3 separate regions of the Homo sapiens genome follow, and all the other regions are linked to region 2. The links come from fine-mapping of genetic effects on gene expression. A gene starts in region 2. Each other region holds a variant in brackets. All regions are shown on one strand. Distances are between the middles of the regions. Region 1 overlaps ZBTB17 (zinc finger and BTB domain containing 17). Region 2 holds the start of SPEN-AS1 (SPEN antisense RNA 1). Region 3 has its middle 5.5 kb from the start of UQCRHL.

The links.
Region 1: its variant is fine-mapped to the expression of SPEN-AS1 in blood mononuclear cells (TOPMed, PIP above 0.99). The same link has a PIP of 0.9 or more in lung and whole blood.
Region 3: its variant is fine-mapped to the expression of SPEN-AS1 in whole blood (TOPMed, PIP above 0.99).

The regions. Positions count from the first base shown.
Region 1 is chr1:15,941,815-15,949,987 of GRCh38, reverse strand. It overlaps ZBTB17 (zinc finger and BTB domain containing 17), which reads left to right. Exons shown (of 16, transcript NM_003443.3): 3 at 1,491-1,697; 4 at 2,865-3,053; 5 at 3,694-3,834; 6 at 4,148-4,273; 7 at 4,786-5,051; 8 at 5,149-5,291; 9 at 5,388-5,688; 10 at 6,093-6,180; 11 at 6,273-6,389; 12 at 6,469-6,589; 13 at 6,794-6,924; 14 at 7,250-7,459; 15 at 7,568-7,657; 16 at 7,736-8,119. The coding sequence starts at 1,493. The coding sequence ends at 8,019. It overlaps LOC124903855 (a long non-coding RNA gene), which reads right to left and starts at 57. Exons shown (of 3, transcript XR_007065486.1): 1 at 1-57. RefSeq lists enhancers at 1-92, 584-753, 1,354-1,463, 6,665-7,864. The variant T/C (reference allele first, on the strand shown) is at 4,233.
Region 2 is chr1:15,844,792-15,852,964 of GRCh38, reverse strand. SPEN-AS1 (SPEN antisense RNA 1) reads left to right here and starts at 4,818. Exons shown (of 2, transcript NR_024279.1): 1 at 4,818-4,857. SPEN (spen family transcriptional repressor) reads right to left here and starts at 5,258. Exons shown (of 15, transcript NM_015001.3): 1 at 4,815-5,258. The coding sequence starts at 4,897. RefSeq lists enhancers at 637-706, 3,086-3,680, 5,104-5,615, 5,616-6,128, 8,008-8,107 and silencers at 4,352-4,771, 4,952-5,521.
Region 3 is chr1:15,798,102-15,806,274 of GRCh38, reverse strand. No RefSeq gene overlaps it. Among named protein-coding and RNA genes, the nearest start is that of UQCRHL, 5.5 kb to the left of the region's middle. RefSeq lists enhancers at 2,080-2,581, 5,747-6,041. The variant G/T (reference allele first, on the strand shown) is at 4,579.

The sequences.
Region 1 (8,173 bases), 97 kb before region 2:
TGGGCCTCTGGCAGCAGCAGCAACGCTGAACTTGTGGCTCGGAGGCTGGTGCGCTGTGGCTCATGCCTGTTGCCACTGCCATGCTCCCCGTTATTTGTTGCGTCACTTCCCCCCGCTCAGCAGATACCCCCACTTGTGAAAAGTTTCCAGACATCACGTGGTGGGAGGCCTTGGCGCCCTTCAAGGCCGACCTGTGCTGGTGTGAGGGGCGTGGCTTCCTCCGGACTCATCACAGCCCGACAGCCATGCATGGCCACAGCAGCTTCAGAGCTGCGGCAGTGATTCACCCCCCAAGATGCTGATGTCACAGGGGAGTGCCTGAGCCGGGGCAGAGCTGCCGAAACTGGGGGCGGAGAGCCCCAAAGTGTCCCTCTCACCTGCCCAGAAGCCGGGGAGCCAGCCCCGTGCAGACTCAGGCCTCAGAGAAGAGGAGGAGTAGGCAGAGAACTCACTACCCCTTAGCAGATCCTGGGCCAGGGCGTGACAGCCGTGCCCAGTTGAATCTGTCTAATGTGGCCCCAGACAGTGGGTGTTGATTTTTCTCTTCAAACATTCTGAAATGGGTTCTTTCTAGAAAAGAGGGCCCGCTTATTTTCCCTAGACAATTGCTGATGTTGACGCCCACTCTGGGTGGTGTTGGGGCGGGAGGGAGAGCTGTTTTAGATAGTTACTTAGTCACGGCTTGTGCGGTTCAAGACTGCTCGGCACTGGGCCATGGAATTTTCCTGAGCATTTTCACTTGTGGGATTTCCAGGCATTAAGTGAGGCCCTTGACAGAGAAGTTGTGGCCAGGTCAGCAGCTCTTGGGGTCAGGATCAAAGTTGTTTCTCCTGGGATGGCCACCAGGACACAGGTTTCTGGAGTCAGAAGACTCCGCAACTCTAGGTAGTTCCCATGAATCAGAAAGAGAGGGAGAGCTAGGCTTTGTCGGGGGATGGGGTACGTGCAGAGCCTGAGAGGGGCCGAGTTCTGCAACACTGGCTGATGAAACACCGTCTTGTCTTCACCTGTCCATGAGAGAATGAGAAAATAGGAAAGTTTTCTTAAAGACCAACATGTCCAATTGAAACATCTGTCCTTTATTCTGAGATTGTCATGCATTCTTTTTGTAACAAATGTTAAAGTGACCATGTCGTTTCATTTTTGAAATGATGACACATTTCAGTGTTCTGTATTTGTTCCCTTTTTTGGCTTTTTCATGTTATTATCAGGCTGAATACGGAGGCGGCTGCCTCGTGTTGGTGCCCCAGTGCTTTTTGGTTTGGGCCACTTTTCCTGGACAGTAAACCCAGGAATACAGGAGCCACCAGTTGGTTGAGTTTGGCTTGCAGGGGGTATCTGGACTGAACTGCCCTTTTGTGGCAGAAATGCCCTCACTTGTTTTAATTCTGTCTTCTCCATGGTGCTCGCCTGGGACTTTAGGAGTGACTGTTGAGCGTGTCTGACGTCCTTTCTCCGTGCTAACCCCAACGCCCTTTGGCTTTCTTCAGCCATGGACTTTCCCCAGCACAGCCAGCATGTCTTGGAACAGCTGAACCAGCAGCGGCAGCTGGGGCTTCTCTGTGACTGCACCTTTGTGGTGGACGGTGTTCACTTTAAGGCTCATAAAGCAGTGCTGGCGGCCTGCAGCGAGTACTTCAAGATGCTCTTCGTGGACCAGAAGGACGTGGTGCACCTGGACATCAGTAACGCGGCAGGTACCCCGTCAGGGCTGGGGCTGAGCTTGCTGATAGCCAGAAGCTATGGCCGGCCCTGTGCCATGCTAGGCCCTCCAGGGGCAGCACCTGCAGGCTGTGGGATGCAACAGGCCTCCCGCACAGGCTTCAGGCCATGAGCAATTCAGTACTAAGTTCCTCCCACCTTTTGGGGGCCTGTTTTGATTGGTAGTGGAGTGGTAAGGGGAGAACGGGCAGGAAGGGCTCATGATGAGCTCTAGGCCGCAGTGAACACAGGAAAGGCCTCATTGGGAGGGGCAGAGAGTAGGCAGGCTCTATGCCCTCTGGCCCCTTTCCGTGGCAGAGTCAGTCCTGAAGCATCTACCCCAGTGCTAACTAGAAGCGTGGGGAGAGGTGATGGGGAAGGCCTAGGGGCTGGGAGCAGTGTCAGGAAGACCTTGGGGTTGTGGAAGGAACTGGTCCTGGATTCAGACTCCCAACCCAGACTGACGTGACATGCCATGAGAAGGTATTATTCTCCCATTTTATAGATGTGGAAACTGAGACCCAAAGAGGTCAGTGACTGGCCTGGAGGTCAGTCAGATAGAGAGTTGGTAGCAGAGCCCTGATGAAAGTCAGGTTGGAGTGTCCTCCACTGGTGAAGTGTAGCGGCCAAATAAGAGGGTGTGGAGGGCAGGTGTTCACAACATCCGTCCTCAATGCAGGGTGGGCATTCACACCTCTGTCCTCATCCAGGGCAGGCATTCACACTCTGTCCTCCCTGCAGGATGGGCATTTATACCCCCGTCCTCTGTGCAGGGTGCATATTCACACCTCCTTTTCTCCATGCATGGGCGGCATTCACAGCCCATCCTCCTCCATGCAGGGCGGACAGTTGCACCTTCTGTTCCCTGTGCAGTGTGGGCATTCACACCTCCTGTCCTCTGTGCAGGGTGGGCGTTCACACCTTTTGTTCTCTGTGCAGGGCAGGCATTCAGACCCTCAGCGAGCACTTCTTTTCAAGGGCTGTTGGTAGTGCTGAGATCCCCCAGGTTACCTGCCTCCTCTCCACAGAGGAGATGGGGCGATGCAGGCTTGCCACTCAGCTGTTCCTAAATCCCTGCGTCCTGCTGCTGAGTGGAGTGGTGGGGCAGGCTGCCGGTGCCGGATCTTGAGGTGGGTCTGTGACAGCTGTCCTGTCCTTGGTAGGCCTGGGGCAGGTGCTGGAGTTTATGTACACGGCCAAGCTGAGCCTGAGCCCTGAGAACGTGGATGATGTGCTGGCCGTGGCCACTTTCCTCCAAATGCAGGACATCATCACGGCCTGCCATGCCCTCAAGTCACTTGCTGAGCCGGCTACCAGCCCTGGGGGAAATGCGGAGGCCTTGGCCACAGAAGGTAGGTTATTGGCAGCTGCTCCCAAGCAGATGGCCAGAGACCTTGGCTTTTGATGTGGGCTCTGCCTCTGACTTTCTGGGTCTCAGTTTCCTCATCTGGCCCTGCCTCGGTTGTGGGTGCTGGCAAGGGTTAGCCTCAGGTCTGAGGGTGGCCTCTCTGCCTGCCTTTCCCCTACAGAGCACCCGGGAGCCGTGCCTGGTTCAGTGCCTTTGCACACGGGCAGGCTCCTAAACCCTCCTGCGGGTCTGTTCTCCTGAGCCCCTCCTTCCACTTCCCTTAGCTGCTAAGATAAAAGCCCTCAGATGCCCACTATGGGCCAGGTGCCTTGCTGTAGACTTCCAGAGGCTGCGTTCCTCCCTTTCCTAGTGCTGACCTCTGATCAGCTCCCTTAGTGCACACATGGGGTCTGCATGTCCCACACAAGCAGGAACCATCACTGTTGTATTCCCAGTGCCCAGCCATCAGCCTGGCATGGAGTGGGTGCCCTGTGAATAATTTGGTGAATGAACAAATCAGCAAACCACTACTTAGAGGTACCCTAGGGAGGACGAGGAAGACCTAGCAAGTTCTGGGCCACCTCACACCTCCAGATGGCGGGCACTTGATGGGAAACGGCAGGTCTGCCCTGTTCCATCTCCAGGAGGGGACAAGAGAGCCAAAGAGGAGAAGGTGGCCACCAGCACGCTGAGCAGGCTGGAGCAGGCAGGACGCAGCACACCCATAGGCCCCAGCAGGGACCTCAAGGAGGAGCGCGGCGGTCAGGCCCAGAGTGCGGCCAGCGGTGAGTCAGATGCCAAGGACCCAGCCGGCTGTCCTGTCACCTCCCAGCAGCCTGGGCACAGGGTAGTGAGGGCTGCCTTGGGGCAGGTAGCACGGGCACCTGCACCTCTTGAGCCTGTGTTACCCAGAATGACCTATTGTGTGTTCCAGGGGGTCTGTTTCAACCAGAGCAGACACAACAGCCTTGGCTAGGGGTGTGCTGGGGCCTCCCCTCCTGGGTCACACGCAGCCACCACCAGCGCGCTGGTCCAGGAGAGGTATCCGACCCCTGGGCAGAGGGTAGCAATCCAGCCTCCGGTGCTTCCCCCACCCAGGTGCAGAGCAGACAGAGAAAGCCGATGCGCCCCGGGAGCCGCCGCCTGTGGAGCTCAAGCCAGACCCCACGAGTGGCATGGCTGC[T/C]GCAGAAGCTGAGGCCGCTTTGTCCGAGAGCTCGGAGCAAGGTAGCCCCGCCCAGCCAGGACCAGGCCCTACCTGGTGCATCCTCCCAGGGCCCTGCCTCCACTGCGCACTGGGGCCTCCCTCTCCTCCTGCCTCCAGCTAGTCCCACCTGGAGTCACCATGCACTTCAGCTTTGGGACACCTTGGTCTTCGCATGTTCTTGAGTCTCGAGGTCGTTCCTTGGTTGACCATGCTAGCCGTGTGTCTGTGAGCACAGGCACGTCCTTCAAAGCCCTGGAGCTTCTGCTGCTTCCCGGCTTTCAGCACCGTGCAGGGGTGCCTTGCCACCCACGGCAACCCTCCAGTGCCTGCTGGCCGACAGCGCCCACCCCAGCTGGCTAAGCCCCCTACCTGCATCCCGCAAGCAGCAAATACCCAGTTCACAGGCCCCCCCGGGGGCTTTCCTTGGCCAGTGCTGGGGCCATTTACTGTCCCTTCCACATGTTGCCGGCGCCCCTCACGTGCGCTCAGGCAGAGAGGGCTGCCGCCTCCATGCTTGCCCTTTTCTCCGCAGAAATGGAGGTGGAGCCCGCCCGGAAAGGGGAAGAGGAGCAAAAGGAGCAAGAGGAGCAAGAGGAGGAGGGCGCAGGGCCAGCTGAGGTCAAGGAGGAGGGTTCCCAGCTGGAGAACGGAGAGGCCCCCGAGGAGAACGAGAATGAGGAGTCAGCGGGCACAGACTCGGGGCAGGAGCTCGGCTCCGAGGCCCGGGGCCTGCGCTCAGGCACCTACGGCGACCGCACGGAGTCCAAGGCCTACGGCTCCGTCATCCACAAGTGCGAGGTGAGGGAGACTATGGCCAGCCCTCCCAGCCAGCGTCCCTCCCCTCCGGCCTCCCACCGGCTGCTCCTCACACCCCGCTTCCCCGCTGCACCCACAGGACTGTGGGAAGGAGTTCACGCACACGGGGAACTTCAAGCGGCACATCCGCATCCACACGGGGGAGAAGCCCTTCTCGTGCCGGGAGTGCAGCAAGGCCTTTTCCGACCCGGCCGCGTGCAAGGCCCATGAGAAGACGCACAGGTACTGCCCCAAGCCGGCCTCCTACCCCGGCCCCTGCCAGGCCCGGCCTTTCACGCCCCAGCGAGCCCTGCCTCCTGTCGCCTTCTGGCCCTGCAGCCCTCTGAAGCCCTACGGCTGCGAGGAGTGCGGGAAGAGCTACCGCCTCATCAGCCTGCTGAACCTGCACAAGAAGCGGCACTCGGGCGAGGCGCGCTACCGCTGCGAGGACTGCGGCAAGCTCTTCACCACCTCGGGCAACCTCAAGCGCCACCAGCTGGTGCACAGCGGCGAGAAGCCCTACCAGTGCGACTACTGCGGCCGCTCCTTCTCCGACCCCACTTCCAAGATGCGCCACCTGGAGACCCACGACACGGACAAGGAGCACAAGTGCCCACACTGCGACAAGAAGTTCAACCAGGTGTGCGGACCCCTCCCGGAACCAGCGCCTGGCAGCCGCCGGTGGCCGCAGCCGCATGCATGCCACGTGGTGGGGCGGGCGGGGAGCACAGCCCCGGCCTCCAGGAGCTCATCAGCTTGTTCACCCAGGAAACAGGCGCAGCGAGAGCCACTTCCGCGGGGGAGCTCCCGGTTGCTCTGCGGAGGGCAGGCCGACTCAGGGCGGGGTTTGGTCCTGAAAAAATGGGGTGGGGCGGCTTACCTCTCACCGCTGGGACCTGGGACCTCTCCTGACCCAGGAGAGATAGAGCCCTTCACGGACCCTGGCAAGCCTGAGAGTCAATTGTTCCTTTGTGGGAGGGGCAGGTGAGGGGGCCCGGGGCCGAGCTCTGTGGGGTGGCCCCCCTGACCCCTCCCTGGGCACAGGTAGGGAACCTGAAGGCCCACCTGAAGATCCACATCGCTGACGGGCCCCTCAAGTGCCGAGAGTGTGGGAAGCAGTTCACCACCTCAGGTAGGGCCAGGGCTGCCCTGGCTGCCCTCACACCCCTGCTCCTCGGCCACCGGTGGTGCCCCACGCCAGGTTCGCCCTCGGTCTCGCCACAGGGAACCTGAAGCGGCACCTTCGGATCCACAGCGGGGAGAAGCCCTACGTGTGCATCCACTGCCAGCGACAGTTTGCAGACCCCGGCGCTCTGCAGCGGCACGTCCGCATTCACACAGGTGGGTGGTGAGCGGCCATGCCCAGGACTGGGAGGGCACGGAGAGGAGCAGGCACCAACACCTTCTGCCCGGTCCCCAGGTGAGAAGCCATGCCAGTGTGTGATGTGCGGTAAGGCCTTCACCCAGGCCAGCTCCCTCATCGCCCACGTGCGCCAGCACACCGGGGAGAAGCCCTACGTCTGCGAGCGCTGCGGCAAGAGGTCCTGCCCCCTCCCCCACACCCACTGGCCAGACACCCCACAGTGAGGGGGCTCAGAAGACAAACTGGGGGCTTGGCTGGGGACTGAGCTGACTGCTGCCCACGCCCCAGGCTCTGGTCCTAGGGGTCCTTTTCAGTCTAGAGGGTGAGGCAGGAGGCCCAGGTTGGGGCAGTTCCATGCGAGTCCCTTCCTGTGGCCCCACAGATTCGTCCAGTCCAGCCAGTTGGCCAATCATATTCGCCACCACGACAACATCCGCCCACACAAGTGCAGCGTGTGCAGCAAGGCCTTCGTGAACGTGGGGGACCTGTCCAAGCACATCATCATTCACACTGGTGAGCTGTGGCCCCTACCATGCCTGTTCCTTCCCAGGCCCTGCTGCCAGGTGGGGAGCAGGGGGAAGGAAGGGACCCCCCAGACCCCAGCCTCGGGTGCTAGCTCTTGCTGCAGGTGGCCTTGAAGGCAGTTCTGTTCAAATGAGGACCCCATTTTCCTAGAGCTTCCAGAGGTGCCAGTGTCACCAGAGGCACCCGTGCAGCCACCCCAGAGCACCTCCTGCTGTAAAAGACAGGGTTGCTGGGCAAACGAGTCATTGAGGGCCTCCCACCCCATCCCTGCGGCCCCTTCCCACAAAGGCAAGAGAGAACCTTGCTCCCCCAGGAGAGAAGCCTTACCTGTGTGATAAGTGTGGGCGTGGCTTCAACCGGGTAGACAACCTGCGCTCCCACGTGAAGACCGTGCACCAGGGCAAGGCAGGCATCAAGATCCTGGAGCCCGAGGAGGGCAGTGAGGTCAGCGTGGTCACTGTGGATGACATGGTCACGCTGGCTACCGAGGCACTGGCAGCGACAGCCGTCACTCAGCTCACAGGTGCGGGCTGTGGGCAGCAGAGGGAAGTCACAGGCAGCTTGCTGCCAGGGTGGCGATGATGGGGCAGTGCCCGTGCCTTCACCTTAGGCCCTGCGACTCTGCCCGCAGTGGTGCCGGTGGGAGCTGCAGTGACAGCCGATGAGACGGAAGTCCTGAAGGCCGAGATCAGCAAAGCTGTGAAGCAAGTGCAGGAAGAAGGTGAGGGGGGCCACCCGGGTGTGAATGTGGGCAGAGCCCGGGGTCCTTCCCACTCTGACTGCTGCCCCACCTCCACAGACCCCAACACTCACATCCTCTACGCCTGTGACTCCTGTGGGGACAAGTTTCTGGATGCCAACAGCCTGGCTCAGCATGTGCGAATCCACACAGCCCAGGCACTGGTCATGTTCCAGACAGACGCGGACTTCTATCAGCAGTATGGGCCAGGTGGCACGTGGCCTGCCGGGCAGGTGCTGCAGGCTGGGGAGCTGGTCTTCCGCCCTCGCGACGGGGCTGAGGGCCAGCCCGCACTGGCAGAGACCTCCCCTACAGCTCCTGAATGTCCCCCGCCTGCCGAGTGAGCTGGCGGCCCTTCTGACTGTTTATTTAAGGATGGATGGCACCCTGGAACCGGGAAGGGTGGCCTGTTCCCTAGAGAGAATAAATTGGATTATTTTCTAATGCTGCCTATAGGTCCCTGTGGGGTGGGTGGGGAGCTGGCAGCTACAACTGATG
Region 2 (8,173 bases):
GGATCACTTGAGCTTGGGAGGTCAAGGCTGCATTGAGCCGTGATCCATCTTGGGTGACTCTGTCTCAATCAATCAGTCAGTCGATTAATAAAAGCAAAGAAATATATAGTCTCCAATTGGATATGCTGGTTTTCATGGAATATTTTCAATTTTTTAAAAATTTCAGTAAAATTTCAAACTAGGGGGAAAGGGAAACTTGAAAGACTATTTGGAAAAACCTCCTACATAAATTTTCCCAAAGGATTAGTGTTTACAGGATTTAAAATGTCCCATAAATCAAGCCTGAAACCTCTTCATAAGTATACCACACAATACAATCCCAGCAATCACGAGTCTGCAACAAAGGTAGTTAGAAAAAGGTGCCCTCCACACAAGCGAAACACTATCATTCTTCCTGGCAGTGAGCCCTATATTTTCCTCCAATCTGCCAGGGGCGTTCCTTTTGGGAAATAAAACCCATTTTATTATTTTTTATTATTTTGTATAATTATTCTGTATAATTTTTCTGTATTATTCTGTATTGCTTTATAATTATTCTGTGTAATTTTTAATGTTTTAAGATAACTCTGAATTTTTTGTTTTATTTTTAAAATGTGCAAAAGCCTATCATGCAAATAGATATTGGAAATCAGAATATTCAAAACCAGAGGTGGTTTCATAGACGGGATGGGGGTGGTATGGGTGGTATGGCCATAGACAAGAAGTGGTTTCATAGAAACCTTCTGGTCTCAAATGAAGAAGCGACGTAACAATGATACAGGCTACAGTGAGTCAAATTTGTTTAAGTCTAAAAATATCCCTAGTAGTCAGGAAAAGGAAATTCAATATTTTATATTGTGTCCCAGAGGTAAAGATATCTGAATATACATAAAATGTAATAGCTATTCCATCTATTTAACTCAGGAAAACCACTGTGATCAAACATTTTAAATCAGCAAAAACAAATTACATTTTTAAATGGGTCTCATTCTTTTTTTTTCCCCAGACGGAGTCTTGCTCTGTCCCCCAGGCTAGAGTGCAGTGGCACGATCTCAGCTCACTGAAACCTCCGCCTCCCAGGTTCAAGCAATTCCCCTGCCTCAGCCTCCCAAGTAGCTGGATCTACAGATGCACACCACCACACCTGGCTAATTTTTTGTATTTTAGTAGAGACGGGGTTTTACCATGTTCACCAAGCTGGTCTTGAACTCTTGACTTCGTGACCCGCCCGCCTCGGCCTCCCAAAGTGCTGGGATTATAAGCGTGAGCCACCGCACCCAGCCTCTTTAACAATATTTTTACACGAGGGGCTACCTCAGTTTACCTCCGCATAATCTTTAACCTAGTCTCTAAAACTGGAGATGGATGGGAAGAACTAAATTCGCAACTTACTTAAAATCTGAAAAGATAAAGATGTTAAATATTTTAAGGGTTTTATTCATTTGCTCATTCTAATTCAAGGAGTCGCCTTTGCAGACACCTCTCTCCCTCTCATAACTAAAAGACAGGAACCAATTGTATAACTCCTCCCTTCCCCCTTCAACCCAGCTAACATACAAAGGAAAGGACTTTCTCTATTGTGTCCCTGTAATGAATCTTTGTTAACTAAAACCCGATTCAGAAATAGTTCTCATTTAATTTTTTTAAATCCGCAAACTGAAAACTGTAAAAATAACAACAGATTTATTATTATTGCAAGAAAAGAAAAGCCAATTTTTGTAAATGTTCTGATTATGTTTTAAGGATTTGGTCTTTCTTTGGCACTGGGGAGGAAAAAGCCAAATCGCCATCCACCCCTCAATCTACTGTCCATTTAAAAACAAACAAACAAACAAAACTAATCAGAATGTAAATTTAAAAATAAATATAAAAATTTTTAAAGAACTGACTGACCTCTTTTTTCTGTTAAAATGTCTCTAAGCTGTCCCCAAAGCTGTCTGGTTTAATCTTTTTGTAAAATGCAAACACTTACTACAAAAGCCTAATCACTGTTAAGAGAACATTCATCTTGAAAACGTTTTATATAATGTATTCCCAGTGTACACCTCTTAATCCTGTAAAACAGTTATTAATGTAATCAGCTAGGGAAAAGGATAAGAGTAGGCACTTAAAGTTCAGTTTTAATATAGGTATTGCATGGTTTTTCTCATTCTGATTTGTACAAGACACCAGAAGTGAATACCATTTCATTTTCTTGCAGAGCCATCGTTCTGGTACAACTACCTTTTTATTCCTTTCACTTAAATTATTCAGATTTCACTTTTACTCCTAGTAGCAATCACACATTTTACAAAATATATCCCACAATAGGGATAAAAGGCCTTGAGTTCCTCCAAACAAGGTCCACTTAGCTCCACAGCTGGATCAGCAGGAACATTTCTTGTACATGCAGAAAGATAAACAAGAAACCAGAAATAGACATTACCTGGATTTTGGGGGGTGAGGGGAGGAAGTGTGGCAACTGGGAATTCCAGGGTCAGGGGTGGAGATTTTTCTCTGTATACCTTTCACATGCTTTGAACCCATAAAAATGTACTGTCTATTTAAACAACTAAATAGATTTGTTTAAAAATGAAAAAAAAAAACCTTTAAAATAAAAGAATTTCAGGGACACATGATCTGCTTAGTTTTAAAATAACCTGCTTTTATCAGTAGCATCTGCTTTTACTCTGCAATAGGTAAGATACTCCTTTGAATGCAGTCGTGAGCAAACTGCCAGCTAAGCCGTTTTTAATACAGTAATGTTCCTCCAGACTGCCGCTTTCCAAGGCAGCTCGAATCCTCCGCCCCCTCCTCCCTCTGTGCATTCTGAGATCGGCTCTGCTGATTCCCACATAAAGTGGGTCCTGGCCGCCATTTTAGAAAGTCATTCACACAAGCCAGACCGCAGCACCGTCCACTAAGAACCCTTCCAAAGCTGCCTGGGACGATTTCCTCTTTCTTCTCTCTGCCCCCTCATCTTGCAGAGGGGCCAAACTCCCAGCCATAAGCATGCAATGTCTCTGGAATCTGCATAATGAGAAATGACACGTCTAGGCACATAACACTGAGGAGCGAGCGAATGCTGCAATGCACGTGCTTGTACATCGGTGCATACGAATTTCCCAGGCAGAGACCTACAGAGAAAGTCCACAGGGGATTAAAGTGAGCACATCTAAGTGGTTTTTCCACTCCAATAATGTACACCTAAATGATTTTTCCATCAAAACACTGACGATACTCGAGGAGAAGCCAGGAGGTGGGGGGCGGGTAAGGGGTGGAGCAGCGCCAGGAAGAGAAAGTTCCCATCTGCTTCCCAATCCAGCCCGTGGTCTCCCCTTCATCCTAGGGCACAGAGGTGAATTTTTGCTCCCTGCCTCCCCCCGCCCCCGCCTGGTTTCTCAGGCACGACGTAGTAAACACCGGGAGAGTCCCTGGAAGCGCGCACCTCCCCCCGGCCTGCCGAGGACAGCTCAAGCAGGTTATGAATGGCCCCACGATTCCCGGCTCCTTTTCACACGCGGACACGCGCAGACGCGCGCTCCAGCGGCGAGGGTTTAATGCCCCAGTAACAGCAACCACCAACACAATCAATGATCCTCCATTTAAAAGACAGGAGCTCCGCCGCCGCTGCTTCCATTTCCTTATCCAAGCGGCTCAAAGCGAGCGACGCAATCTATTTTTCCCATGGTGACTCATTAATGAGGACGCTCCATAATTTCCTTCACTCACTACATAGTAAGGGAAATTAAAAGCCAAACTTAAAACCTTCCAGGGTCTTAAATATCGGAATAAACTGTCATTTTCGAGGACAACCACAGATTTGCTATGGTCCCTCTGAATCTGCACCAAGTCCAAGCCAATCGTCATTTTAATAAGTGTTTTATGCGGAGGCCTATCTGTTACGGTACACAGGCATTTCACAAAGAAAACGCACTACACGCTACTCAATAAGATGTATCAACGACAACATTTATTCTTATAATTCACAAAAATATTCAGGGGAGGTTTTTTTTTTAAGCTACATCTTCTCATCGTAAAAGGTTTGGAATGTTTTACCGTTTGATTCGGGAATTCAGGGGTGGGGGGCACCAGGGTCTTAGGGCGGCCTGGGAGTGCGACCCGAGGCTACGGGCGCCGGGGCTAGCAACCTCCTGTCAGACGCGGTCTCCTCCGCCGGGGACGAGGAAGCCCAAACGGGCGCACCAACTTATTTCACACCACTCTCCACCCAGCCCCGCAAAAACGAGAAACGTTTGCCATTCCCAGTGAGTTTCAAGGCTGCAAATCCTCCGGAGAGGTCCTAGATGGTCTCTCCGGGTCCGCGACGCGACCACAGTACCTACTGCGACTTCTGTTTTCGCACCGCCTTTCCCTTCGCACGGAACCCTCCCGAAGTCAGACATTGCCGAGCGCCCGCAGAGCAGCTTGGAGTGGCGGCGCCGGACCCGGCTGTCGGGCGGGCTCGGGTCCCGGCTGCTCCGGGCCGGGCACTGCGCGCAAGGACGCGACCCCGCCGCCCAGCGCATCTCCCACCGACTCCCGGGCTGACGCGAGGGCAGCCCCGGGGCGCCGGCTGCGTGGAGGCCGAGCCTCGGTCACCTCCCTCGTCACGGACGCGGCCGCCGGGGCCCCGCGGGCTCTTCGAAGGCGGCGCGGCTTGGCCGCCCGCACCGCCGACACCCGAGGCCCAACGCCGCGACGCGGGCCGAGCGGCTGACGAGGTCCCACAGCGCCCGTGGGTCCGGGCCGGAGTCCTCCTCACCAGCTCCGCGCTCCGGGAGGGGCCGGCAACGGGCCGGGGCGGGAAGCGGCGCCCGAGGAGCGAGCGCGGCCGCGGGCCTCGTGTCACTCACCGTTTGAAATGCTCGATGATCTTCTCTTCCCGCACGTTCTCGGGTAAGTTGCCCACCCAGAGATGCCTGGTTTCCCGGACCATGCTGGGCGGCGTGCCGGCGACCGCCGCTGCTGGCTCCCCCTCGCCGGCTTCGTACGAGACCGTCAGCGCCGGGAGGCGGGTGCCGGGGCGGCGGCGGCGGCGGCTGCGGCGGTGGCGTCGGCAGCGGCGGCGGCTCCTCCGGCTCCCCCCCGTGCAGAGACCATCCCTCTCCCCCAGGTTCTGACTCTCGGGCCTCGCAGCTCAGCTCTGCCGCCACCACACACCCGAAGCCGACCCTCGCGCTCCGGCAGCGCATGCGCCCGGGCAGGGGCGGGCGGGGGAGCGGGAGGAGGGGCGAGCGGGACACGGGCGGCAGCGACTACGACGGAGCTGGCGCTGTGGCAGCCGGACGCTTCCCACTGGCGCGCGCGGCCCGACTCCCGCCGCCGCACTGCCTCCCCCTCGCCGCGGGCGCGCGCGCGTCCTCCCGCCTGCCAAGGCGGAGAAGCTGAGTTCCTCCCAGCCGGCGCGCAGGCGCGCGGACCGGGCGACGAAGTGAGGGACTACAGGCGGGGAAGGAACGCTCGCGCGCTCGGCCCCGGTGCGCAGGCGCGCAGCTGCTAGTGGAGTCCCGCTGCTTGGCGGGCTCTCGGTCGGGTTCCCGCGCCGGGCAAGGGGCGGCTGAGGAAGCAGGAGCGGTCTTTAGCCCCTCCAGCGGCAACCCCAGGCCCCGGCCTGGTGGAAGATATGAAGAGAAATGCAATTGGTTTCCACAGGGCTACGGGTCAAAGCGGCTGCCAAGGCCTGTCCCCTAGAAGTCAGGACCCCTTCGTCCTCCGCTCACCTGGCGGCCAGCTCCTGGCGTTTCCGGACACTTAGATTCCTGCCTGCTTGGGAAAGCGATCAGAAAAAGGTTGCCCTTCTCACCGCTCTGCTGAACAGCGACGGCTTCAGAAACGCATCCCATCCAAGAGTCACTGGCTTGTAACATGAAGCAACTTTTTTTTTTTTAATACGGGGTCTCGCTCTGTTGCCCAGGCTGCTGGAGTGCAGTGGCACGGTCTCGGCTCACTGCAATCTCCGCCTCCCAGACTCAAGCGATTCTCCTGCCTCAGCCTCCCAAGTAGCTGGGATTACAAGCACCCGCAACCACACCTGGCTAATTTTTGTATTTTTATTAGAGACAGGGTTTCACCATGTAGGCCAGGCTGGTCTTGAACTCCTGACCTCAGGTGATCCGCCCGCCTCGGCCTCCTAAAGTACTGGGAGTACAGGCGGGAGTCACTGCACCTGGCCTAAGCAACTTTTTTATATAGAATCTTGCGAAACCGTTTGCAAGATACCCTTGCTGATCGCTGTGGTATAGAAGGAATAAAACGGAAATGAGACAGGAATCCAATATTGTTCCCCTCAGACCATAATTTAATATTTAAACAGAGAAAGGAATTAGACCTCTGGCCTTTCCAGGCCTAAGAGCTTTTGAAACCTACAGTTGAACTTTCTTTTTTTTTTTTTTTCCTTTGAGACGGAGTTTTGCTTTTGTTGCCCAGGCTGGAGTGCAATGGTGTGTTCTCGGCTTACTGCAACCTCTGTCTCCTGGGTTCAAGCGATTCTCCTGCTTCAGCCTCCTGAGTAGCTGGGATTACAGGCATGCGCCACCATGCCCGGCTAATTTTTGTATTTTTAGTAGAGACAGTTTCTCTGTGTTGGTCAAGCTGGCCTCGAACTCACAACCTCAGGTAATCCACCCGCCTCAAGCCTCCCAAAGTGCTGGGATTACAGGCTTGAGCCACCACGCCCAGCCTCTTTTTTTTTTTTTTTCCTGAGACCAAGTTTCACTCTTGTTAGCCAAGCTGGGGCACAATGGCGCTGTCTCAGCTCACTGCAACCTCCGCCTCCCAGGTTCAAGCGATTCTCCTGCGTCAGCCTTCCGAGTAGCTGGAATTACAGGCGCGCACCACCACACCAGGCTAGTTTTTTGTATTCTTAGTAAAGACGGGGTTTCACCATGTTGGCCAGGCTGGTCTTGAACTCCTGACCTCAGGTGATCTGCCCACCTTGGCCTCCCAAAGTGCTGGGATTACAGGCGTGAGCCACCATGCCCGGCCAGTTGAACTTTTATATAAAGGCCAATTTACAGAAATTCAAGGAAAACCCATAAAATTAAGGTAACTATATCGAGAGAAAAATAAAATTATTTATAATAAAAATACACAGAAATACCAGAGGTGTGCTGCTTCAGGTGCAAGCCAGATTTTTTTTTTTTTTTTTTTTTTTTTTTTGGAGACGCAGTCTCACTCTGTCACCAGGCTGGAGTGAAGTGGTACCATCTCTGCTTACTGCATCCTCCGTCTCCCGGGTTCAAGCAATTCTCCTGCCTCAGCCTCCCAAGTAGCTGGGACTACAGGCGCAAACCACCACGCCCAGGTAATTTTTTTACGTTTAGTAGAGGCGGGGTTTCACCATGCTATCCAGGATGGTTTCGATCTCTTGACCTGGTGATCTGCCCACCTCAGCCTTCCAAAGTGCTGGTATTACAGGCATGAACCACCAGCCCAGCCAATTTTAAATACTTGGCCTCATCGATTATCTCCTTAAATACAAACTAACTTACAAACGACACTATTTGAATTCGAAAATATTGTCACCAAAACCAATGGCACTAATATCTCAGGTCACCTATGCATAACTAAATTGTTTCTTTGTAGTCTCAGCTACTGGAGAGGCTAAGGCAGAAGCATCATCTGAGTCCAGGAGTTCCAAGCTGTAGTGCACTATGATTGTGCCTTGAAAAGCCCCAGCACTCCAGCCTCAGCAACATAGGAGAAACCCCTCTCTTAAAAAAAGAAAAAAAAAAGTAAAATTGGCTATTTACATCTGGCCATTTCTCTGTCACAATTATCACATAAGGAAAGTCAAGCTAACACCCTACTAACGAAACTCATGAACTATTCAGTACTGTGAACGTGGCTGCAGTTAGTCAACTGTTGAACTGATATGCATTTTTCTATGAAGCATGAATTTGAATACAAGCACCCAAGTTTGAAGCAAATTTTAAAATCTGATGTAAAATCTGATAGACTGAATTAGCTGAAACCTCTTGGGAAAGACCAGTGTCACCATGAAGAACAGTGTCACCTCAATTGTATTAAAAGGTGCAACTGACAAGAGGATTCAGAAAAGTGTCTCGCAATTAGAGAAATAAAAGGCATGTCTCGCCTTGAATGGAGGCTTCTGTTAAAATCATGATTTTAAAAAAAAAAAAAAAAGAGCCGGGTGCGGTGGCTCACGCCTATAATCCCAGCACTTTGGGAGGCTGAGATGGACGGATCACCT
Region 3 (8,173 bases), 47 kb after region 2:
AATAAATAAATAAATAAAGACCATAAAGGAAAAAAATTGATACATTACCTCCATCAAAATAAATCAAAAGCCATCTTAAAACAGAATCTCAGGCTGGGCACGGTGGCTCATGCCTGTAATCTCAGCACTTTGGGAGTCCGAGGCGGGCAGATCACGAGGTCAGGAGATCGAGACCATCCTGGCTAACACGGTGAAACCCCGTCTCTACTAAAAATACAAAAAATTAGCCGGGTGTGGTGGTGGGTGCCTGTAGTCCCAGCTACTCGGGAGGTTGAGGCAAGAGAATGGCGTGAACGCAGGAGGCGGAGCTTGCAGTGAGCTGAGATTGTGCCACTGCACTCCAGCCTGGGCAACAGAGAGCAAAAAAAAAAAAAAAAGAAAAGAAAAAAGAGGCTCTCAACTCTGGCCGCAGGAGCATCACCTTAAGGGAGTTTTTTTTTGTTGTTGTTTTTGTTTTTTTTTTTGAGACGGAGTTTCGCTCTTGTTGCCCAGGCTGGAGTGTAATGGTGTGATCTTGGCTCACCAAAACCTCCGCCTCCCAGGTTCAAGTGATTCTCCTGCCTCAGCCTCCCAAGTAGCTGGGACTATAGGCATGCACCACCATGCCCGGCTGATTTTGTATTTTTTTTTTAGTAGAGACGGGGTTTCTCCAGGTAGGTCAGGCTGGTCTCGAACTCTTGACCTCAGGTGATCCGCCCACCTCAGCCTCCCAAAGTGCTGGGATTATAGGTGTGAGCTACCACGCCTGTACCCAACTAACTTCTTGTATTTTTTGTAAAGACAGGGTTTCACCATGTTGCCCACGCTGTTCTTAAACTCCTGATCTCAAGCAGTCCACTTATGTTGGCCTCCCAAAGTGCTGGGATTACAGGTGTGAGCCACCACACTGGCATTATGAGCCACCACACTGGCATTATTCTTTAAAAAATATATTATGACCAGGCACTGTGCATAACAAAACAAAGCAAATGCATGTACATACTAAAAAATGGTAGCTGCTGCCACCACACCTGGCCCTTTTTAATTAAGAAAAAAACTTGGCCAGGCGCGGTAGCTCACATCTGCAATTCCAGCACTTTGGGAGGCCGAGGTGAGCGGATCACAAGGTCAGGAGATCGAGACCATCCTGACCAACATGGTGAAACCCCGTCTCTACTAAAAATACAAAAAATTAGCTGGGCGTGGTGGTGTGTGCCTGTAGTCCCAGCTACTCGGGAGGCTGAGGCAGGAAAATCGCTTGAAACCACCGGAAGGCAGAGGTTGCAGTGAGCTGAGATCGCATCACTGCACTCCAGCCTGGGCAACAAGAATGAAACTCCGTCTCAAAAAAAAAAAAAAAGAAAAAACTTTTTCAGTCAGGACCTCACTATGTTCCCCAGGCTGCTGGTCTCGAACTCCTGGCCTCAAACAGTTCTCCCAAAGAACTAATGGTGTGAACCACCACACCTGGCCTCAAACTTTTAAAAAACACAAATGGGGCTGGGTGCGGTGACTCATGCCTGAAATCCCAGCAATTTGGGAGGCCAAGGTGGGCAGATCATTTGAGGTTGGGAGTTTGAGACCAGCCTGGCCAACATGGCAAAACTCCATCTCTACTAAAAATACAAAAATTAGCCAGGTGTGGTGGCACACGCCTGTAATCCTGGCTACTCTGGAGGCTGAGGCAGGAGAATCACTTGAACCTGGGAGGTAGAAGTTGCAGTGAGCCGAGATCACACCACTGCACTCCAGCCTGGGTGACAGAGCAAGACTTCTAAAAAAAAAAAAGCCTGCATACCATTCTGTCACTTGCTTTTTTACTTACTACCTCAAAATGTTGAGGTTCATTCATCCAACAAATATTTAGTTAGCCCTTAAATATGTGCTCAGCAGCTAGGGACCCAGCAGTGCCCTTGCCTTCAAAGGATTTTCATTGCAGTAGAGGGGACACACGATAGACAACAAGCAAGTAGTAATGAAAGACAAGAGGGAGATGACAGGTGACAGACAAGTTAATAGGGCCCAGGCTCAGTGGCTCACGCCTGTTATCCCAACACAATGGGAGGCCGAGGCGGGTGGGTCACCTGAGGTCAGGAGTTCAAGATCAGCCTGGCCAATACCCCATCTCTACTAAAAGTACAAAAATTAGCCAGGCGTAGTGGCGCTTGCCTGTGGTCCCAGCTACTCGGGAGGCTGAGGCAGGAGAATTGATTAGACCCAGGAGGCGGTGAGGTTGCAGTGAGCCGAGATCGAGCCACTGCACTCCAGCCTGGGTGACAGAGTGAGACTTCATCTCAAAAAAAAAAGGAAAAGTTAATAGGAAGGCAGCCTATATGGTCTGGTGTCGTCTTTTAGCAATTCCGTGAAGTACAATGGAGTTTCCAGGTTTTCTCTGTGACAAAGGGATGCTGCTTTGTCACTTTTTTTTCTTTCGAGGCAGGGTCTTACCCTGTAGCCCAGACTGGAGAGCAGTGATGCGATCACAGCTCACTGCAGCCTCGAACTCTTAGGCTCAGGGGATCCTCCCACCTACTGAGTAGCTGAGACCACAGGTACATGCCACTGTACCTGGCTAATTTTTGTTTTTTGTAGAGACAGAGTCTCACTGATGTTGCCTAGGCTGGTCTGGAACTCCTGGGCTCAAATAATCCTCCCGCCTTGGTCACCCAAAATGTTGGGATTACAGGCGTGAGCCACGGTGCCCAGCTGAGCCTTGATATTTAAATAGTGGTCTGGGGACCAGCAACACTGACATCTGCTGGGAGGTTGTTAGAATTGTAGAATTTCAGGTCCCACCTCAGACCTATTGATTATTTCCATATTAACAAGATTCACAGGTGATTTGTATGCACATTTCAGTTTGAGAAGGACTGGTTTAGAATGGAAGATAAAAAATGGCAGATAAGGCTGGGCACGGTGGCTCATGCCTGTAATCCTAGCACTTTGGGAGGCCAAGGCGGGAGGATCACAAGGTCAGGAGTTCAAGACCAGCCTGGCCAACATGGAGAAACCCCATCTCTACTAAAAAAAAAGAAAAAAAGAAAAAATTAGCCGGGCGCAGTGGTGGAAGCGTGTAATCCCAGCTACTTGGGAGGCTGAGGCAGGAAAATTGCTGGAACCCAGGAGGCAGAGGTTGCAGTGAGCCGAGATCGTGCCAATGCACTCCAACCTAGGCAACAAGAGCAAGACTCCGTCTCAAAAAAAAAAAAAGACAGATAAGGTGTTAAATACCTTCAGTTCAATTAGGGATTGATGAGAGATGGTGTGACCTAAAACATTGTTCTGGGTTGAATTTGGCCTTGTTGCCTGGACTGTCAATATTGTGGTGTTTATCCTCTTAGGGAAGAGAACTCCAAAGACCAGGTCATCTCCTTAATTTGCTTCTCTCACCAGGTGTGGGAATCCAGATTGCCCCAAAATCTTGAGCTGTTAAGGCTGGGAAGAGCCTGAGATGCCATCAGTTCAGCTCAATCCCTAGCTGCTGCCCTGCTCACTTCTGCCAACCCCCGTCTCACAGGCGAGGCTCTGGGAAGGGCAGTGGTTTGCTCAAACCACAAATCAGCCCAGGGCTGGCCACAGTCCTGGGTCCCAGCCAGTAGTTATCTTTTCTCTAAGTTTTGGTCCATTATTTTTCTATCTCATGGATTTATCCTAACTTTTTAGAAAAATGAATTTTAAAAACATATATGGGTTCATATTAGAAAAGTATCATTGTAGCAGGATGAGCCTCAGACAAGAACCCCTCAGAAACCGAGTTGTAGAAGGAAAGGGCTTTATTCAGCTGGGAGCATCGGTGGATTCACGTCTCCAAAAGCCGAGCTCCCCGAGTGAGCAATTCCTGTCCCTTTTAAGGGCTTACAACTCTAAGGCGGTCCGCGTGAGAGGGTCGTGATCGATTGAGTAAGCAGAGGGTACGTGACTGGGGGCTGCATGCACTGGTAATCAGAACGGAAAGGAAGAGGACAGGGATTTTCACGACGCTTTTCCATACAATGTCTGAAATCTATAGATAACAGAAGAGTTAGGTCGGGGTTGATTTTTAACTCCAGGCCCAGGGTGCAGTGCTGGGCTATCTGCCTGTGGATTCCATTTCTGCCTTTTAGTTTTTACTACTTCTTTCTTTGGATTCAGAAATTGGGCATAAGACAATATGAGGGGTGGTCTCCTCCCTTATCATGTGCTTACTGTAAAAAAATCAGAGTTGGGCACAGTGGCTCACACCTGTAATCCCAGCACTTTGGGAGGCTGAGGCGGGAGAATCACTTGAGCCCAGGAGTGCAAGACCAGCCTGAGCAACACAGTGAGTCCCTATCTCTACAGAAAAAAAAAGAAAAATCAAAAGTTATCCAGGCAAGATGGTGTGCGCCTATGGTCCAGCCTACTCAAGAGGCTGAGGCTGGAGGATGGCTTGAGCCCAGAAGGTCAAGGCTGCAGTGAGCCATGATCGCACCATTGCACTCCAGCCTGTGTGACAGAACGAGACCCTGTCTCAAAAAAAAGAAAGCTTTAAAAGGGTGAATTTTGTATGTGTGATTCATATCTCAGTAAAGCTGTTATTAAAAAAAATAAATAAATAAAAGCAGGCCGCCGGGCATAGTG[G/T]CTCACACCTGTAATCCCAGCACTTTGGGAGGCTGAGGTGGGCAGATTACCTGAGGTCAGGAGTTTGAGACCAACCTGGCCAACATGATGAAGCCCCGTATTTACTAAAAATACAAAAATTAGTGGGAATAGTGGTGGGTGCCTGTAATCACAGCTACTCAGGAGGCTGAGGCAGGAGAATCGCTTGAACCTGGGAGGCAGAAGTTGCAGTGGGCCAAGATTGCCCCACTGCACTCCAGCCTGGGCAATAGAGTGAGACTCCATCTCAGAAAAAAAAAAAAAAAAGCTAGAGAGAAGAAAGTAAAATATCCTTTGAGTCACCCAACCCCAGACTGCAAGTAGCCACTCATTCATTCCACAAATACTCTCTGAGGGCCTGTTCTATGCAGGCTATGTGCCAAGGGTTTACACCCTAGGAGCAGTGCCACCCCAGTATCTGTCCCCCGTGACCAGTGACTGCCCCTCCTCTATAATATCTATTGACTGACCTCTCTGACCTCACCTCATTTCTTTCCTCCAGTGCCCCGGCTCCAGCAGTCCATGGATCCTGCCCCCTTTGCATGTCCCTCAGCCTGCCTGCCCTCCGTGTCCTTCCTGCCCAGCCTACAATTCATGGTCAGGCCCCACCCCCACCCCCTCCTGCGGTCCTGACAAAACCCCAACACTGGTCAGTCCCACTGCTCCACCTCCACCGCATCTCACCTGCACTTGCGCAGCTCAATGTCACACCACCTTGCCAGCTGCTTCCCTTTCAACTCATGACACAAAACCCAAGAGGGCCCTTAGTGGATGTCAGGATCAGTCACTGTCCCCATGACCCTTGCACCCCTCTTTTCTCCTCTCTATAAAATAAGGGTGATAATATTTCTGTCTCCCGGGGCTGTTGGCAGCATCAGTAGTAGGTCCTTGCTCGGGGGCAGCTACTGGGGTTAGTTCCTCTGGTGCTCAGTCCAAGAGTTCCCTGGTGTCTTGGTGTCCGCGGAGTCCCACCCTGCGGTCATTTATTTTGTTCCGCTGGTTGGGCAGGCCTGGGCTCTCTGCCAGATCTGATCATCCTCCCAGAGACAGGAGGGAACGGAATGTGGCACCAGGCAGTAAGACGCATGGCTGAGCTCAGCAGGAGAGGGAAGCTTCCAACTTCCTGCAGCGAATGTCCTAGGTGATAGGTCAAGTCTGACCCCGCCAGTGAGGCCAACATGGAAACTTACTAGGGCCTCGAAAAGGTGTGTGTGGGAGTTCAGAGAGGAGTGGAGACAGCCGGCCTCCCAATCTGGACCCACAGGGCAGGGCAGGGAGAGGAGATGGCCCCGCCTCCAGGAATCCAGGCTGCACCTCCCTCCAGGGAACTCAGATCAAAGCCAGGAGGAAGGAGGAGTGTGAACTTTGCACCCAGTGACTCACTGCATCCCCCTAGGGCAAGTGCTCTCACCCGTGCAGAATCCTGCCCTCCTTGCCACTGACGGGACCATCCGCACTGGGTCAGCCTATGAGCAACACTGACCTGATTCACCTGCACGCCTTCATTCCCCCACCTTCATCCTCCTCCTCGCAGAGGTGATCAGATGTTTGCAGGTGCCTGCCTGTGTTTACAAGTAGGTCTTGGAAGATAAGAGAGGCGGTGGGAGGGGTGGGAAAGCCCTGTTCTGGCAGTCAGGACACCCAGGGCTTGGCCACTAACCAGCTGTGTGAGCTCGGCCGGTCTCACACCCTCTCTGGGCCCGGCCACCACCTCTGTGGTTATGGGCAGTTGGACTCTATGGCAAGTTCATCTGCCCTACCGGCTTGGGGTTCTACCGGCTTGGGGTTCTACTGGCTTGGGGTTCTTCCTTCTCACCGTTGCCCCCCTGGGAAAAAGCCCCAATCCTGGCACAGAGTCTAGGAAGCCTTGCTGCTTTGGTTCCTGCCTGAGTCTGGCCCTCATCCTGCACTTCCCACATGCTCAGCCACATTCAGCTGTGCCCAGCTCAGAGAGCAAGCGCCTGGATAGCTCTTGTTCCAGAGCCTCGCCTGGCTGACCCCTGCACACCCTTTAGGCCCAGCTCTGACATCACTTTCTCCATGGCCTGCCCTCCTGGACTCCTGGCTGTGCCTCCCCAGCACGGACTGTTCTCTTTTCTCCTTTTTCCATTAAACTGAGCTCTGTGCCAAGGGCAGTGACTGGCAGATGGGAGGGGTCAATGAGTATTTTATTAAAGAGTGAGTGAATGAATGAACAAATGAATGAATGAAGCGGGATCTCTAGGCACACTGGAGTGGAGCCACTGTTTGCTTTCTGCCCGTGGGACTTGATTTGAAGCCATCTCAGGGTGGGCCATTGGGAGTTCTACCTTGCCAAGGAGGGGTTGCTGGTCAGAGGGGTGCTGGAAGCGGGGGGGTTGCTGGGGGAAAGGGTGCAGATTTGCAAGGGAGGTTCTGGCTGAGCTCCCTGCATGCCACAGCCCGTCTGAGCAGTCTTGGGAAACCCCAAGCTGCCAGGCCCATGACTCACAGGCCCCAGAGAGCATTCTTAACCCTCCCTGACCCCCCATGTGCCTTCTGATTGGGCCCTCAGGGTGACCCCTCATGGGTTTCTCTCCTGCTTCAGCCAGCCCCTCCCTGTGGTCTGAAGTTTGGGATCCTGCTAACTGTAAAGGACCAGTTCAGGATTCCTGGGTCGTATTGTGTTTTTTGTTTGTTTGTTTGTTTTTGAGATGGAGTTTTGCTCTTGTTGCCCAGGCTGGAGTGCAGTGGCATGATCTCAGCTCACTGCAACCTCCACCTCCTGGTTTCAAGCGATTTTCCTGCCTCAGCCTCCCGAGTAGCTGGGATTACAGGCATGAGCCACCATGCCCGGCTAATTTTGTATTTTTAGTAGAGACGGGATTTCTCCATGTTGGTCAGGCTGGTCTCGAACTCCTGACCTCAGGTGATCTGCCCGCCTCGGCCTCCCAAAGTGCTGGGATTACAGGCATGAGCCACCACGGCAGGCCATAATTTTTTTTTTTTTTTTTTTTTTTGGAGACGGAGTTTCGCTTTTGTTGCACAGGCTGTAGTGCAATGGCGCAATCTCGGCTCACTGCAACCTCCGCCTCCTGGGTTCAAGCGATTCTCCTGCCTCAGCCTCCCGACTAGCTGGGATTACAGGCATGTGCCACCACCCCGGCTAATTTTGTATTTTTAGTAGAGATGGGGTTTCTCCACGTTGGTCAGGCTGGTCTTGAACTCCCAACCTCAGGTGATCCGCCTGCCTCGGCCTCCTAAAGTGCTGGGATTACAGGCATGAGCCACCGCTCCTGGCCTAATTTTTTGTATTTTTAGTAGAGATGGGGTTTTACCATGTTGGCCAGGCTGGTCTCAAACTCCAGACCTTAGGTGATCCACCTGCCTCGGCCTCCCAAGGTGCTGGGATTACAGGCGTGAGCCACCGTGCCCGGCCCGTATTGTGTTTTCCTGAGGAATCCTTGCGTGTTTATGGATTCCTCAGGAATCCATAACCCAGAGAGGGTGTGAGACCGGCCGAGCTCACACAGCTGGTTAGTGGCCAAGCCCTGGGTGTCCTGACTGCCAGAACAGGGCTTTCCCACCCCTCCCACTGCCTCTCTTATCTTCCAAGACC